Linked DNA regions of Homo sapiens: region 1 is linked to region 2. The links come from fine-mapping of genetic effects on gene expression. Tissue or cell type: whole blood. Region 2 holds a variant in brackets; the other region holds the start of a gene. All regions are shown on one strand. Distances are from middle to middle. Region 1 holds the start of DLEU7 (deleted in lymphocytic leukemia 7). Region 2 has its middle 94 kb from the start of DLEU7-AS1.

Region 1 (8,336 bases), 130 kb before region 2:
GACTTCATCGGCTCGTATAACTGAAAAGCTCAGAGGTGGGGCTGACTTCCTGTGCTGCTAAATGTGGACCTCAAATGCTGCTATACAGCCACGGTTTCTCTCTATACATCTGTTGGCTTTTGTTTCATGAACGTCTTCTCTCCATGAGTGCTGGCTCATTCATAGGCGGGCTGTCCCCATCAAACTCACAAGATGGCTGCAGAGGCTCCAGAACTTGTATCTTCTCAGCTTTACTTGCACAGGGGTCACTGAAGTCAGATATTTGACAGTAGAAAGATCAGCCTCATGAAACTGGACTTGCTGTGTATTGATAAAGAGAAGCAGCCCTGGAAATCTGATATATTCTTTACCTGGAAACCCCTGCAAAATCCTCATTGTTCTCTGTTGCCATTGCTGATGCTTGGTAACAAAACCTTGCTTCATATCAAGTAGTTTTCATCCTCCCTCCACCAATTGCTTTGAGAGAGGCTAGGCTCAGCCCCAACTCCTACACTGAATTCTAGTTCACCTTAGACTCTCATGGTAGCCTCTTTCCTCTTGACTGTGATTAATTAGGCAAGAACATGTGACACAATTCTGGTCAAGGAGATGTGAGAGGAAGCCAGCTGAAGGCTTTTGAGAAGTGTTTCCTTGCTCTTGAGAAGGAATACACAGGAAAAGATGGCCTTTTCTTCTAGTTATTGTTGTCTAGACATGATGCCAGCAGCTGCTAGTAGCCATAGGAGAACTAGCCCAAAAATTAAGGACAAAGCTGATGTGCTGGGAATGGCATGGCAGAAAGAAGGAAGGAACAAAGGGCTTTGATGACACTGAGGAGCTGCTATATTAACCAACTCTGGAGCCACTCTGCCTTTGGACTTCTTGTGATGTGAGACAATAAATTATTCTTATTGATTAAACTATGTTATGTTGAGTTTTCTGGTTTAAAGGGAATTTGATCTTTTGCTGTTTCATCTCTTGGCCTACACTTCTTTTTTGGCCTGTACTCTTTGCATCTGTTGTTTTCTCTTTTACAGTGCATTCAGCTGAAAGCATCCTAAAAGATACTGTCTCATTGGCTCTAGCTGGGTCATGTGCCCATTCCTGACCATGCATGCACTGTGGGGATGTGATGTGTGATGGGACTTAGGCTAGATGATCCAGTACTCTTCTGCAGTGAGATGGGCTCATCCCATCTGACTTCACGGGCAGAGTGTGGAGGAAAAGGCATATCTACTGAGAAATGAGGGTATGATTTCTATAAAATAGTGAAATATATGTTGTGAAACAAACATATCAGATATCTAATACTTTGTCCTTTTGAATGTGCCCTTTATTACAGAATGGCCTCAAATCGTGAGTACAGTGGGTAAGAAGTAGGCTATCTGTTACTTCGTCTGGTAGCCCAGCAAACGTAACTACGGAGGTGTTTTAGACCAAAGGTAGATCTGCTATGCTATTGACTCATCTAAATAGACTATGAAAATTTTTCCTGAGTTAGGCTCTCATATCTCTAGCTTTGGAACACAAGCCATTTTGAGATCATAGCAAAACACAGTGCGACCCACAGCCAAAACAGACAAAACACTCAGTTGCCAGATGATCCAGGGCTTCCTAAGAATACTAGAAAAAGCAGGCAGCAATTTAAGCAGCATGTGCCATCCCTCAGGCCCCAAGGTTTTCTGGCACCCTTCTGTCATGCCCCCTGAGGTTCAGTTGGTCTCATGGCTCTGACTCAGTGTGGTATGTAGAAGAGTGGGGCCTCAGGTCAGCCTGTGTCTAGTGATTTCAATTCTGCTCTTGGCTGCAATTCCAACTGTCAAGAAAGTTTTGCAGTCAGCCATTTGATAGTGGAAGGGTTAGCCCATGAAACTGAATTTCCTGTGTATCTGGAAAGAGAGGCAGCCCTAGAGATCTGACATGCTCTGTGAAAATTAGGGGTTCATTTTTGCTATTGCTGGTTAGTCTCTGCTGAACCTAATATATTTCAACATTTGAAGACTTTTTTTAAAAAGAAAATTTTTTTCTTTCTATTTTTTATTATGAACTTAAGTAACTTCATGGCAAAAAAATCTAATCAACATTAAACTATTTACTTCCCTCCAAAGTAATTTCCTCTCTGTCAATGCACAGACGTGCATTTTTACTTAGTTATAATTAGTGTGAACATACTCGTTTTTGTTTAAGAAAGGTTTTCTTTACCTTGGCATTCAGATTCGTTTTCATAGGCGAAGAAAGCACTGGGAAGGAGAAGGAACCTTTGCTGGCAAGTTGGGAGGATTATATGGGGTCATACTATCCCAGGGTTAAGGAAACCTTAAAGGACCCAACATCCCTCTCCATATCTCTTCTGATGATCCTTTTGTGCTCACAGACTAACCAGTGTGGCCTTTTCACTCAAAAGCCTCTCCAGATCTGCACAGCACCAAGGGTGCAGTCTGGCTCCCAAAGGAGTAATGCAATTCCATCCTCAGGTCTGCCAGGGCCCACCTGTCTGTCGTGGGCATGCACCATTGCCCTGGCTTTACTGGGCTGTTGGGTTGTCTAGTGGTTTTCCTTGCAGAAAGCAAGCAGGAACAATGCTGCTCCGGACTGGTTTTCCATACCACTCCTCTCAAATATCTTCTATTTTCTTAAGTGTGATCACACACCCATGGTTTCCAATCTATCAAAGCATAACATTGCTAGTCGCTTTTTTCTAAGTTAAGGAAGTAGCCATGTTGGGTTTAATTAAAAACAGCAACTATTTGTACAGCTGTCCCTAAGTTCATGGCTCATAAAAGGATTAACTTCAACCTTGCTGCCTAAGTCTTTTGGGAGTGTCACAAAAAAACATTTAGGCTTTTCTGGGCAGTGCCAGGCCTGGGCCTTGAGGCTTGCTGATGCTAGTTCAGCCACCAGGCTCTCGGTGCTCAAGTGGCACCCAGCAAAGCAGAGAAGAGCAGAACTTCCAGATACACAACTCCTCCTTCTTTTGTTTGGGGGATGCAAGGCCTTGAAGGCTGCTTCAACAAGTTTCTGAAAATTCCCCTCGGGTTGGGAAAGGCACAGTCTTCCTTTTGCAAGTTTTTCTAGAGCCCTTCGTACTTTTGCCCTAGAGTGGGTCTTTTGCACCCCCACCTCCCAGACCTCAGTGGTCATTGGCAGGCATCCTTCGAAGGAGGTGGGGGCGGGGTATCCCCGCCGATGGATGCGCCCGCACAAAGCAGCACGTTTTCTCATCAAAGCCCTGGAGAGAGGGAAGAAGCAACGCTCAGCATTTCGCTGATTTTCAAGTGCACACCGAGCAGCGCTTCAGGCAGCTTTGGGTCAGAACACGCCTGATTCGGACTTCAGGCGAAGGCAGAGGCCAGCACGGGTCACCGATTCAGAGCCGGGGGCGGGGCCGACCACACACGCTGTGAGACCCAGAGGCCGAGGAGCCGCGGGTTAGAAAATGTGACCTTGGCGACCCCAACGCCCCCGCCTCCCTCGCTGCTGCTCCACCTGCACGCGGAGCGCGCCGGGCCGCCAGCGGAGGCGATGGCCAGCCCTGCGCCCTTAGTGGCCTCCATCAGCCACCAAATGGTGGCTCTGCAGACCTTGCAGCTGCTGCAGCAGGAGTGGGGCTGGGGGGACGGTCCAGTCGCCCCCGGGAACCCGCGGGACCCAGACCACGTGTCCACCGCTCCAGCCCGTCGCTCAGGCCCGCCGCGGGCCCGGCCGGGGCCCGGGCGCGAGGAGCGGGGCGGGGGCGTGGGGACCAGGAGTCGGCGGACCGCGGCGCGGGCGAACTCCCCAGAGGAGGAGGTAGTGCGAGGCGCTGAGGGGGGCGCCGAGTTGCTGCCCTTCCCCCGGGACCGCGGGCCCTGCACCCTGGCCCAGATGGCGATGCGCAGCGCGCTGGCCCGCGTGGTGGACTCGACTTCGGAGCTGGTCAGCGTGGAGCAGACGCTGCTGGGGCCCCTCCAGCAGGAGCGGTCCTTTCCCATTCACCTGAAGGTGAGTCTGGCCCCCGCCATCCCCTCTGGCGTGCAGGGTAACCTCCCATCCTCCAAGGGTGGGGCTGCTGGGATGGCGATGGGTGGATCGCAGGATCCCAAACACTGCTGCCCACTGTGATTCAGCCCCAGTGGGAGAAGGAAGGGGGCGGGGGACACTCTGGGGACTCAGCAGGAGGGGCAGGGAGCCCCAGACCCACCTGAGGCCCGCCTGGCTGGCACAACCGAGATGTGGGGACTGCCTTGCCAAAACCTCCCCCTGGAACTCCTTCCTCTCTCACATAAATCAGCTTCCTGCGCTAGAAAGGCCCTTTCCACACGTGCAGCTTGTAGGGATAGAGGACAGCTCCCCCCACCCACTTTCCAAATTAATAACGCTTCCTCCAGAGCCTTAAATACACTTACTAAGTCCCTTCTGCCTTTTGTATGATGAAATCATCTACATTTATTTAAAGTTCCTTCACATTCATGAATCACTATTATTTTTTGCATAAATCCAATTCCCCACAGAGCTAAGGGGTCTTACAGAGTCAACCTACATTCTCATAAAGTGGGGTGAGAGCTGGGTGGGTCCCGGGTGTTAAAGCGTGAATACTAAATGCTAAACTCTTGCTAAGTCACCCAGCTCATATAGGTAGGGCACATTTCCTCTTAAGGTACCAAACTGTGTTAGCCAATTTAGCCCGGGAAGGGAGCAGCTGTCTCCCAGGCTGAGTGAGATTGCGGAAATCTGGGGGTCTGGGTTTCAGTCCTGGACTTGCCATTAACTAACCTAATTGGTTTAAGGTCACGAATCTCTCTGAGACATTCTGGCTTTCAGATTTTGACCAGGAGCATTGCTGTATTTTATTTCCCTGGGGCATCTAGCAGAAGGAGTTGGGGAGGGGTGATGAGGAGAGCTTAGAATATGTCTCAAGAGTTGCTATTCTGTACAAGCCAAGGTTTGGAAAAAGTTGCTATACATTAAGTTGCACTATACACTGTAAAAGATTTATTTAAAATCAAACATAATAAAGCCTATTATATACCCAAATAGGTATTGTTTCTCTACGTAGGGGTTTCTCAATCTCTGTACTATTCACATTTTGACCTGGCTAATTCTTTGTTGTCGGGGGTTGTCCTGTGTATTAGAGGATGTTTAGCAGCATCTCTCGCCTCTACCTGTTAGATGCCAGCAGCATATTCCTCGCCGCAAGTTGATACAGCCAAAAATGTCTCCAGACACTGCCAAAGGTGGCGGGGGCGGTGGGGTGGGAGGCAAGATGAGAAGCACTCCTACACTCACTTTAGAAAGTTAGAAAATGAAGCTGCATTTCACCAAATGCTCTCCAATGTAAGATGTACTTTTTTTTGGTATCACCAAAATTTTTTTTAATCCTGTCATTGAACTATGATACACCATTGATTATAAGTTACATGCTAATTTAAGGGATTTTTTTTTTTTTTTTTTTGAGACAAGGTCTGCCTGTGTTGCCAAGGCTGCAGTGTGGTAGCCATTCACAGGTGCGATCATAACACTACAGCCTCGAGCCCTGGGCTCAAGTGATCCTCCTGCCTCAGCCTCCTCAGTAGCTGCAACTACAAACCTGTACCACCACATCTGGCTGATTTCAGGGATTTTTAAAAAATGTGAATAAAAGTGCATTTTAAAATAGATGAAATATGAAGTGACTTGTGATGTCAGTAGCACATACAGGGCATAGGTAAGGCTGGCAAAAAGAGAGACTGACAATCAGTTTTACCTAAGGTGACCCTGGAAGGCTTCTCAGAGGAGGCAGCCTTTAAAAAAAAAATACATGTTATTTTCCAGACATTAAAGGGAAAAATATTTCAGGAGAATACTTTGGTTAAGGCCCAGCAGCACTGAAAGGGACTGAGGCTCTAGAGGAACTACAGTTAAGTTCAATATGGCAGAAGGCAAAAACTGATGCTGGAGACACAAATGGGGGCCAGTTAGGGAAAGGCCTGTGTGTCATGCTGAGGACCTTGGATTGTCTTGCAAGCAGAGGGTAGGTAAATCACAGAAGCCTGGATAAATCACAGAAGGGTAGGTTTCAGTTTGAAAGTCAGGTCAGAAGACAGCTGTCTAAGGGCTTGACCCAACTCAGTGGCAATGGACTAAACCCCGTGTCCTCTGCTCTGGAAGCAGTCCACTATAAACTATGCCATTTTAGCTTAATGCCACAGTCACTTCTACTTGGAAATCCTTTTAGCCCTTTCTAATTGACTTTTGATTCTAAACATTTTCCATCCTCCTCAAGCCTTCTTCATCCAAACCTCAACCCGCTCACACCTTTTCTGAGAAAATAGAGGCCAGTGGACAGAAATATCTTTCTACCTAAAAAATTGCATTTCTACTCATCTTCATTTTTGTTTCTAAAATTCAAGTGCTGCCCCCCCATCCCCATGTATATTCATGTTAATTCCACTGGAGCAAATCTTTCACTTGCTCCTGGACCTGTTTCTATCAATTTTCTCTCTCCTTACATTTTCTACCGCCCCCTCTTTGCTGACCCTCTTGGTCCATAACACTCTTTACTTACCCAGCCCTTGAGTCCCCATCCTTCCCTTCCTTGTCATGAGCAAACTTTGAAAACATTTAGATGTACTGCTTCCACTTTCTAGAAGTATACAACTACTGGAGTCTGCTGTTCACCCGCAGGGGGATAATGAGTTTTAGGGCCCCTGGGAACAGCGAGGGCTTTCGAGAGAAGCAGAGAGCAGTTTCTCTGCATGATTTGTTCCCTTGGGAGCACCTAGGAATTTTGCTTGGTTTGCTGTTTGCAGAATAGGTAATATCTCCACTTGGTTTGTAGAGTAATGATTACACAGCACTTAGACTTGAGGAGATGGCATTCTGTCTTTCCAGGGGGCTGGTTATGCAGACTTAGCTTCCTTAATACTAGTGTTAATTCAAATGACTTGGAAGGGTGTTTTGTATATTTTTAAATTGGGAACATACAGATTTTATACAATAGAATGGTTTCAGAAATCCTTGCAGGAGGATTTCCGGGAATGGAAATAACTATTTTGTATCACCTAGAAGTACGTGGGAACCTCCCCAACATCAGATCTCTTTGGTGGTGTTACTTACCACGGAAGGTAGGAGGAAGACTCACTTGAACTAAAGCCCATGGCGCAGATGACAGGCATTAGAGATCCTGCAGTGGAGAGAGCATAGCACAGCAGTCAAGTCCCATGGAGCATTTCAAACCTACTCTTCCACTTCCTGTCATTGGCCCTTGGGTAAGTTATTTAGCCTTTCTGTCCCTCAGTTTCCTCCCTGTATAGTGAGGACAATGGTATCTAACCTAAAGGGTTACTGAGATAATGCATTTAGTCAGTGGCTTCCCAAAGTTAATCTCCATCTATTTGAGCTATTATGATTATCATTATTATTACTGTTAACAGGTTGATGCCTCATGAATTCTTATTGACTGTTATTTTTGTGAATTCTATTCTTGATATTAATGAATATGATCCATGAACTCTGTGTCTGCTTTTCTGGAACTATTGACAAAAACAGACTTAGGATGACCCAAAGAGATTTCCAGGAAGCCTACACTATCTAGAGGTCAGCTTTAGCCTCATGCCTAGTGACAGGCTTAGAGGTGTCACCAGTGAGTGACTCACTGATCAATCCACCAGAAGGTTAAGGCAGTGAAATCTGCAGGCATGGAGGCAGAAAAATTCTCACCACAATGATAACAGACATTTAAAAATAGGATTTTACTCTTTAATTAAAGAAACCAACACAATACTCCTTTTGAACACTTAGAAATGATCATACACATGCAAACACCTATTGCAGTGAGTTTCTTCATGGTGGATGAAAAATGCTTAACAGTACTAAATCTTATTAAATTTGCTGCAGAGACTAGGTTTAACCAGCTTAACAAACATTTATAATAGGAGGAAACTGAGGCTTGGAGGAATTGAGGACTTTGCTCAAGACCCTGCAGCTAAGAAGTGATGGGTTTTATCTAACTTATTCTCCTACATTACAGTGCTTGCCCTTAGGGGCGTTATGAACATCATGCTGAAATTGTGTATGTGAGAGATCTTAGGGGCCGTAGTTGTACATGCTGTGCACTGTGTACACTGCTTGGACTACAACAGTCACATCGTAGCCTGGCAGCTCTGCTTGCCATAGCAAAATACCAAAGACGGGGTGACTTAAATAACAGACATTTATATTCTCCCTGTTCTGGAGGTTGGAAGTCCAAAATCATGGTGCCAACAAATTCCATTTCTAGTAAGAGCTTCCTTCCTGGCTTGCAGACAGCTGCCTTCTCGCTGCGTCCTCACATGGCCCGTCCGCAGTGCGTGCAAGCAGAGAGAGAAAGCTTTGCATGTCTTTGGTGTCTCTTCTTATAA
Region 2 (8,336 bases):
GTTATGTTTTGGGCTGAATTTATGTATTAATTATTTATTCTCAAGGAAAAATCCAAAGTTGACCATTTCTCATTTCTGAGATAAAACGATTGTTGTCTTTTCATCAGCAACATTTTTTTTAACCTGGAGCACATTGATACATTTAAATTAGTGCTTCTTAAATTTCAATATTCATAGAAATCACTTGCAGATCTTGTAAAACAAAATATTCTGATTCTGTAGGTCTTGGGGGAGGGCCTGAGATTCTGCATTGGAAACAAGCTCCCATGTGATGCTGATGAGGCTGTTTAAGAAGCACTTTGAGCAGCAAGATTTTAAATTTTCCCATAGCTATGTCAATATTATCTATAATGTCTTGGCATTGGTGGTGATTTCTGCATGTGATAGTTTGAGTTTTTGTTCCATTTTCATTTTGCCTGCTTTGTAAATGTCATTCTAGGTGCTTGCTTTATAACAGAATAGCAGAATTGATGCAACTACATTAAAACAGAAAGGGAGACATAGTGTCTGGCTGCCTTGGGCATTGCTGTTAGCAGAAATGGAAGTCTTTCAGGGGTCTTAATTTTTAATAGCTATGCTATCAGATTCTCAGTCTTGGCATTAGGGCTAGGTGTTAGAACTTCTCATAAAGTGTTCTGATTTATGGACTCCCTGCTCCTTACCATAAAATGAAGAGAAATCCTAAATTTGAAAAAAAAAAAAACCCACAGCCTAGCTAATGAGACTTCACGCTATTTGTTAATTAATAAGCATTTAATAGCATGAAGATCAGAATAACTCCAGTTTGCAAAATGTACTTACCATTTTGGAAACATCAGCAACTGAAAAGTGGGTTACATGATACAATGAGTGTAGTTGCCTTTCTCCAGACCTGTTCTGTTTCCTTGCCCTCTCTGGCCTCTTTCTGGCTCCATTTACCTTTTCCACTAGTTTACCAGATGATTCATCAACTTTCTGGCATTTTCCACTTACCATCTGTGTCCAGCATCCTGGTAAAATCCAATAAACTTTCTAATATCCAGCATCCCATTAACTATATCCTTGTATATAGCAAATTCACTGGGAGTGGATAGTCATATGATGGCCTCAAGGCAAAGGGCTCTACCACTTTTTGAATACCCACTGTGTGCCAAGTTCTGTGCTGGTTGCATCAACTAAATCATCTCACTTAAAGCTAAAGTATTAAAGATCCTAAAAAGCCATTTTACAGAAAGATTAGATTATTTTCAATTTATTATTCAGAATAAATATATCTTTTTTCTTTAACTTCTCAAATAGTTATTGAATTGTATTGGTTTAAATTAAATGCGTCATGTGTATATATAGTATTAATTCAAGAGATACAAAAGGAAATTGAGTGAAAAATAAGTCTGCCTCCTTCCCATCACTCTCATGTCTCTACCTAGAGGCAATTATTGTCAACAGTTTTTGATGTGTCTTTCAAAAAATAGTCCATTAAGCCTGGTGTACTAGATCTCTTTTAAAAGTTTACAACCTGTTACAGAATATATATAAATGTTCAATTACTAGTAACACCTTATTACATATACAGATTACAACTTAGAAATATATTTTCATGACCATTATGTCATTTGATTCTCCCTACAATCCTATGAACAAGGCAGGGGAGACATTGTTGTTACCACCTTACACATGAAGAAACCAATGCTCAAAAATGTAAAATGATCTGCCCACGTGTATATAGTTAGTGAGAGTCCCAGTTCTAGAACAATAACTAGTCTAATGCTCTTTCCGTGACATCACGGAAAAGGTAGCCCAAGGATTAGAGATCAAAAAACATTAGCCTTCCTCGATCAGTCAAAGTACTCTTTCTGTATAGTGTCAATTAACAGAGAATTTACTATGTTCAATATGGTACCAAGAGGGCATTATTCCATGTAAATAATATAGCATATAAAAACTCAATATTCTGGCTTTGCAACTGTGGTCATTAAGCTGTAACCAAACATTTCAATGAAACAAGGGCTTGAGTTCCTGTTAATGGAGATGTTTGGCCCTTCTCTTGAGATAGCCCTTGGTGATCAGAACCTACACATTGCTAGAGAAGGGTTGGGGCATTTGTGAATCTGGTCTATTAAACAAAAAAGACCAAGCAGGAAGCAATTCTATTCTTTCTTAGAACTGCCCAGTGAACTTGTTTCCTTATTTGGTGATAAAATCCTAGGTTGATCTAACATTTATGCCACCTTTCAGTTACTAACAAATACTTTGTGTTTTGAGATCTTGAAGGTCCAGTTCAGTCTAACATCAAAGCTTCCTGTGTCCCCAGCCCAGACCTGCCTCAGCAGGGTGTGGAGGGGAAGCAGTGCATGGCCAGGTGGCAGGGAGCTGCAGGGTAGCAGCAAGGTGTGCCAGGGCATGACAGCCAAACTTACCTTTCTGCTACTCTTCTTTGGCTCTTCTGCTGCCTTTGGGTCCTCCCACATCAGAACAGCAGTAGGGAGGAAAGGCAAGGTTGTGATTTGGTAGCATTATCTGGCATAGACGTTGTCTGAAGGCCGATGATTTTCTCAAGTGGAATCTTCGGAGTTTTTCCGAAACACCTCCACTAGGGAGCTGCCATTGTAGCTTCCTAACACACGTCTCCTCCAGCTATGACTTCCCCTCCTCCATCTCCGACTTCTTCCTGCTGGGGTTCCTTGTGTCTCCTGTTGGTTCCTCCTTTTGAGTGGAGCCCCATTCTCGGCTGATAGCCCAGTTCCGTTCCCTGAGTCCTCCAGGGCAACATCCCCTTTGCTGCGCCATCGGCGGAAGTGCGACTTCTCCAGCTCTCGCCCCCTTTCTCCTTTAGCTGCCACCGGCTGCTCTGTCTAGCTTCTCACCTGCTGGCTTTTCAGGTACTAATCTCTATGTGGTAGGCTGAATAAGGCCCCCACCAAAGATGTCCTTTTCCTAATCCCCAGAACCTGTGAATAGCTTACATTACACGGCAACAGGGACTTTGCAGATGTGGTTAAGGTAACAGATTTTTAGATGAGGGGATTATCCTGGATTATCGGGTAGGCTCAAAATAATTACATGATCCTTTAAAAGCAGAGAACATTTCCCGACGAAAGTCAGAGAGATGAGGCCTCGTGAGAAGGATTCCACACACTCACACTCTCGCTGGCTCTGAGATGTAGGTGCCCTTGTGCAAGAATCAGAGAGAGGCTGCAAGGAGCCAGTGGCAGTTCCCGCCGACAGCCCGCAGGGAAGCAGGGACCTCAGTCCATCAGGCAAATTGAACTGAATTCCGCCAACAAGGCGCAGAGGCCTGGAAACAGATGCTTCATTAGAGCCTCTAGGAGGGAGTACAGCCTGGCCAACACCTTGATTTCAGCCCTGTGAGGCTTGAAGCCCACACACCAGCCGCGCCCACTGGACTTCTAACCTACAGAACTGTGAGGTAGTAATTTTGCTATTTTTAAGCTGTTAAATGTGTGCTAATTTGTTTCAGCAGCAATAGACACTAATACATTCTATGTTCCCCAAAGCCTAGGGGTCCTAGGTCAGCTCTCCAAGTAATTCTCTGAAGGCCCCCTCTTATTTGCGTAAGATGAGGGGAAAACACATGAGAAGGGAGGAGGAAGCATTTTAGCAGCCTGAAAGCTCTGTCTCATGAAATCCTTGCCGTCCTCATTAATTTACAAGTCTCCCCTTGCGTAGCTAAGATTTGAGCGATGGTTTCAGGGTTATTGGACCATTTTTTTGGTCACTCCTTAGCAGATGACATCTCCTGAGAATAGATGAGCATTTTTAACAATATTTTTTTTTCTCAGCTCAAAGATGTCAGCTAGCACTGAGAAAACAGGAAAAGTCTCATTTTAATATCCTGTTACTTAAAGGTATTCACAGAATGGCTTACCGTTTTAGGTTTAACATTCTAATGATATGCCAGATGGACTGGGGTTGCTCGGAAAAAGCTGGGTGACAGGAGAAGGAGTTGAGATCCCAGAAAGAGAATTCACCACTAGGGTGGGAAGACAGACAGGTCAGAAAATAGCCACGTTGCCCAAGACCGGAATTAATGTGGATGAAACAACGCTTCTAGCCCTAGACCTCAGGCATGGCGGGATCCAAGGCAGAGGTGAGAAGG[G/A]AGTTTGTGTTCAGTGGCTCACCAGTAAGCAGGACTCTTATGCCTTCCTACAATGATCCTGCAAGAATGGAATAAACTGAGACTACATAGCTTGAGTATGTGCAATAGTTGACCACTTCCTTTCTGTGTTTTGTGGTTTCACAACTTGAGTTTCCAACAGAGCATGGGAGTGAGGGGAGTCAGAGACAGAGCAGCAGTTCTGTAACACAGCCGACAGTCTTCATGAGGGTAGGGGCAAGGCCCTACTGCCCGGTCCGGGAGGCCACATGCGGGCAGAGTCTGGGTCGTTTTCACATCTGCGGAATGATGTGTGTCTGAGGAGGGAGGCAGGTGGGAGACAACTTCCTTACAGTCCCCATCCCGTGTTGCTGCCTTTAATGAGCTTTTAGGAGGCATGATTTCATAGCCTAGTTTATTTTATAATCAAGCCCAGCTTCCTCTGTTAGACCAATCAGTACCTATTAACTGAATGCCTACCGTATGCAGGCTTATGACGCCAGGAACAAATACGTCCATGATGCTGTTGCTGTTTAGGAATTGTAAGATCATGGATAGAACCCCTTTCCTGTCAAGAGCTCACTTTTTCCATAGAGTGAAGGGCAGCTGTAAGGTTATTTCTAGAATTCTATTTTCCTTCCCTTCTCATTTCAGGAAGAAGAAGATGAACATAAAATACAAAGAAAAAGATTAATATAAAGTATAAAGATAGCTATAGAGAAGTCTTCTTCCTGGGTTGTTTGACTCGAAATTAGGGTCCTTCTATGCATATTTTGTGTTTCTCATGTAATTATCTATAATGGGTAGCCAAGAAATGTGTGTTAGCCCATATCTCCAGTACCTAATGCCATTCCTAAAATGCAATATAGTGCTCAGTAAATAATTGTTGAATCAATGAATATAAAAAATGCAAAGCAAGCATTTGAGATATTATGCTACATTTCTTTCAGCTTCAACTCCTGGCTAATGAGTGAAGAAGGTCACTGTAGGAGTGTGAGGACCATCAGGAGCTTCATATTTCAATAACCAGTGCCAAATTCTGAATGCCAGATGGGATGAGATGGGATGTTAAACCACTTCTTATTACCACGTTGTTGGCCTCCATTGCCTTCGTATTGGTCTCCAATTGCATGGTCTCTGTGGATCTCTGACTTCTTATTACCTCCGATTGGAACGCGCCACAAATCATCCTGCTTTCTTTATCCTCTCTCACCTCCAAGTAATCCTGTCATCTTGCTCCAATTAGAGCCGCTTCCATTAAGAAGATCGTGACAAATTCCCTACCCCTGTTTGCTCTTCAGGAAAATTATCCCCTGGAAAAGTGGATGTTATAGTCGCTTTTCAGAATGTATTGTCTGAATTTCTTGTCTTCCAACATTCTCCTAAGCCAGTTACCTTTGCACTGAAGTAGAATTCAAAAGGAGATAGAGGTTCTGAATTTCTTCCTTTGACCAGATGGAAGTCGTTACATCAGAATGCTGATGACTGCAAAATCTTGGACATATTGTTTTCACAATTAGGAAATGGCAAACACAAAGTTCTTCAGTGCAAAGCCAGCATGCGAGTTCAGCTTCCATTTGCTGCTATAAATTTTGTTCTTGTTGCTGCCAGTAAACACCAACTGTTCAAGTGAAATAGTAAATCCAAATGTGCCTGTTGGATGAGAGTAAAAAAATTATATGCTGCATAAATGCTGATGCAAAAGGATTTTTCAACACACTAAACCAGGGTAGGGAAAGGAACCGAGAAAGAAAGTTGAACTGAATGCAGCTCTCACTAACAACTTCTTGGTAAAAGCACTAAAAAAGCTCTTGATAGAATGTTGATTCAACATACTGTTTAAACCTCAAGGAAAAAAACAAACGCAGAATTGGGATATTGGCCTTAGGATATCTGCTTAAAGTCCTACTTTGAGCTCTCATCAGGGTTACCAAAGAAGGCGTACATAGATTGTTACAAATCAAAGCAAAGAAAAATCCCAAAGTTCCCTCAAAACTGATGTGGGCACTTGGCCCAGAAGTTGTTTGCTAATGATCAGTCTAACAGCTGAAAGTCAAAGTCAGTGGCTAGTACCATCTGCAATAGGATTTAGGAAGTTTTGATCTCACAAATTTACTGTAAGGCTAATCAATGAATGTTTGTACTCAGGTCTCCCTACAGTTAAATTTAATGTGTAACTGGAATTACGATTCAAAGAGATAGTTTCATAAATGGTCCCTGAAATTTAATTTTGGATTACCTAAGTTTACAATGGATTTCTCTTCTCCTTTCCCCAATATTTTTCTTACGCAGAAAAAAAAAAAAAAAATCCTGTGTGACCTTGGAGCTGGCTGCCCTGAGTCCCAGGCTCTGATTTGATTCTGATGCTCCAGAGCCTGCTTTCTCATGTAGGTATAGGTAGTAATGCCCCCCGCCCCCGCCACTGGGTCATTGTGAGGGTTAAACAAGATAATACTTGTTAAATGCCTGGCACAGCCCTTGCACATAAAATGTCCTTAATAATATTAATTCCCCTTCCAGATTAGACTTTGCAAACAAATGATTGAAAAACAGAACATTCACGTGGATTGGATTCTCTAGCGTGATAAGGCTCCAGGCCAAGAACCATGCAGTAAAGATCTTCCAAACCAAAGTATTTCAGCATCTGAGAATGGCTAGGGCTTATCTTCATGGCTAAAATAAGCATTTTAATATAAAGCAGGCTTTTTTCTTCATTTTCTTATGGAAAGGAAAGCATTTTCAGAATAATGGTTAAAATCTGTCCTTTGTAGATCTGAAAATGTGAGCAAGTTTCATACCGAAGTCAAGATCTACTGAAAGTGTTAGATGAATATATAAGGACCAGACGCTGCTGTCAAAAATAAAACAGATGCTGGTGTCTTGAATGCCTCCATGTGCCAAAGCTGAGTTCTTTGACTTATTTTTGTCATTGAATTAATTGGTATATCTGGTTTAATTGGCCAAATTGTTTTTGCTTAAATGTTCACATTTTCATTGTTATATTGATATACTCAATATTTTTGAGGGTACAGAAAATACCAATATTGGCAAATTTGGTATTTTTGCCAATTTTGTGTGTTCAGAAGAAAAATTGTTCATTTCCAGATCCCAGATTTATGGAAATTTAAAAATATATAGTAAAGTGTTGGTTTCTCCTTATGGTTACATCTGAATGTATATAAATTATCAGAGTCTGTGTGCATTTATTTCCATAGAAAATAATACCAGCAGAGACACAGCCAAACCAAGTTGAACCTTGCTGAGTGGATTTGAAGAAACACAGGCCAACTCAGGGCAAGGCAAACCCAAGAGATAGAAAGTCTAAAATAGTAATAATCAGCCTTTGAAACATTTTCCCTTGAAAAAGGCATCTCAGTCCCATCCTATATTTACAGACCAGAAGAGACACACATGTGTTCTACGTATGACACAGAAAGTAAAACCAAAAGGCTCATTCTGAATGCCCAGTCCAGCTTGAATTGAAACCTTTGTGAAAAAGTAGTGCTTTTGATTCAAAGGAGCTCAGGTTTGAAAGGGAGATGTGAAGTCTAACATCCCATCTATCTGATGCCTGGTCTTCCTTTACACAGTTCTGGCAAAGATGCCAACCAATTGATACTTGAACATCTATAGAAATGAGCAACTCATGCCCTAGAGAAGAACACTCTGCCTTTGAATAATATTATTAGAAAATGTGTTCTTATTTTGGACCAAGGCCTATTTCTCTGTAACTGCCACTTATGGCTTCTATTTCTATCACTCAGGGGTCACAGGCAGGCAGAATTCCATTTCCAGTGACAATTAGTCTTACAAACATTAAGGCAAAGCTCACAAATTAGCCCACATAGTATTTTAGATAATTGTAAATTAGCTACTAACATTTGAAAATTAGAAAACTACCCACAGAAATTTGTATTTTCAACTAACGAAATTGCTGATTCTCTGAAAGCAATGGGCCACATTCCCAAATGGTAAAACTAGTACCCCCTTATCCACAGTTTCACTTTCTGCAGTTTGAGCTACCTGTGATCAACCATAGTCTGAAAATATTAAGTGGAAAGTGCCAGAAATAAACAATGTATATGGTTTAAATTGCACACTGTTCTGGGTAATGAAATCTCTGAGTCCCACTCTGTGTTGCCTGGGATGTGAATCACCCCTTTGTTCAGCATAGATGCTACCTGCCCATTGGTCACTTAGTAGCTGTCTCAGTTATTAGATGGAAAAAAAAGCCATAGTATAT

Evidence for each region. PIP is the estimated chance that this variant, and not a neighbour inherited with it, causes the effect.
Region 1: DLEU7 starts here. The variant in region 2 is fine-mapped to the expression of DLEU7 in whole blood (TOPMed, PIP above 0.99).

What each region holds. Positions count from the first base shown.
Region 1 is chr13:50,838,812-50,847,147 of GRCh38, reverse strand. DLEU7 (deleted in lymphocytic leukemia 7) reads left to right here and starts at 3,456. Exons shown (of 2, transcript NM_001306135.2): 1 at 3,456-3,960. The coding sequence starts at 3,502. It overlaps DLEU7-AS1 (DLEU7 antisense RNA 1), which reads right to left. Exons shown (of 5, transcript NR_046551.1): 4 at 7,054-7,120. RefSeq lists an enhancer at 3,600-4,526.
Region 2 is chr13:50,709,948-50,718,283 of GRCh38, reverse strand. It overlaps a transcript of DLEU7 not described here. Among named protein-coding and RNA genes, the nearest start is that of DLEU7-AS1, 94 kb to the left of the region's middle. The variant G/A (reference allele first, on the strand shown) is at 4,097.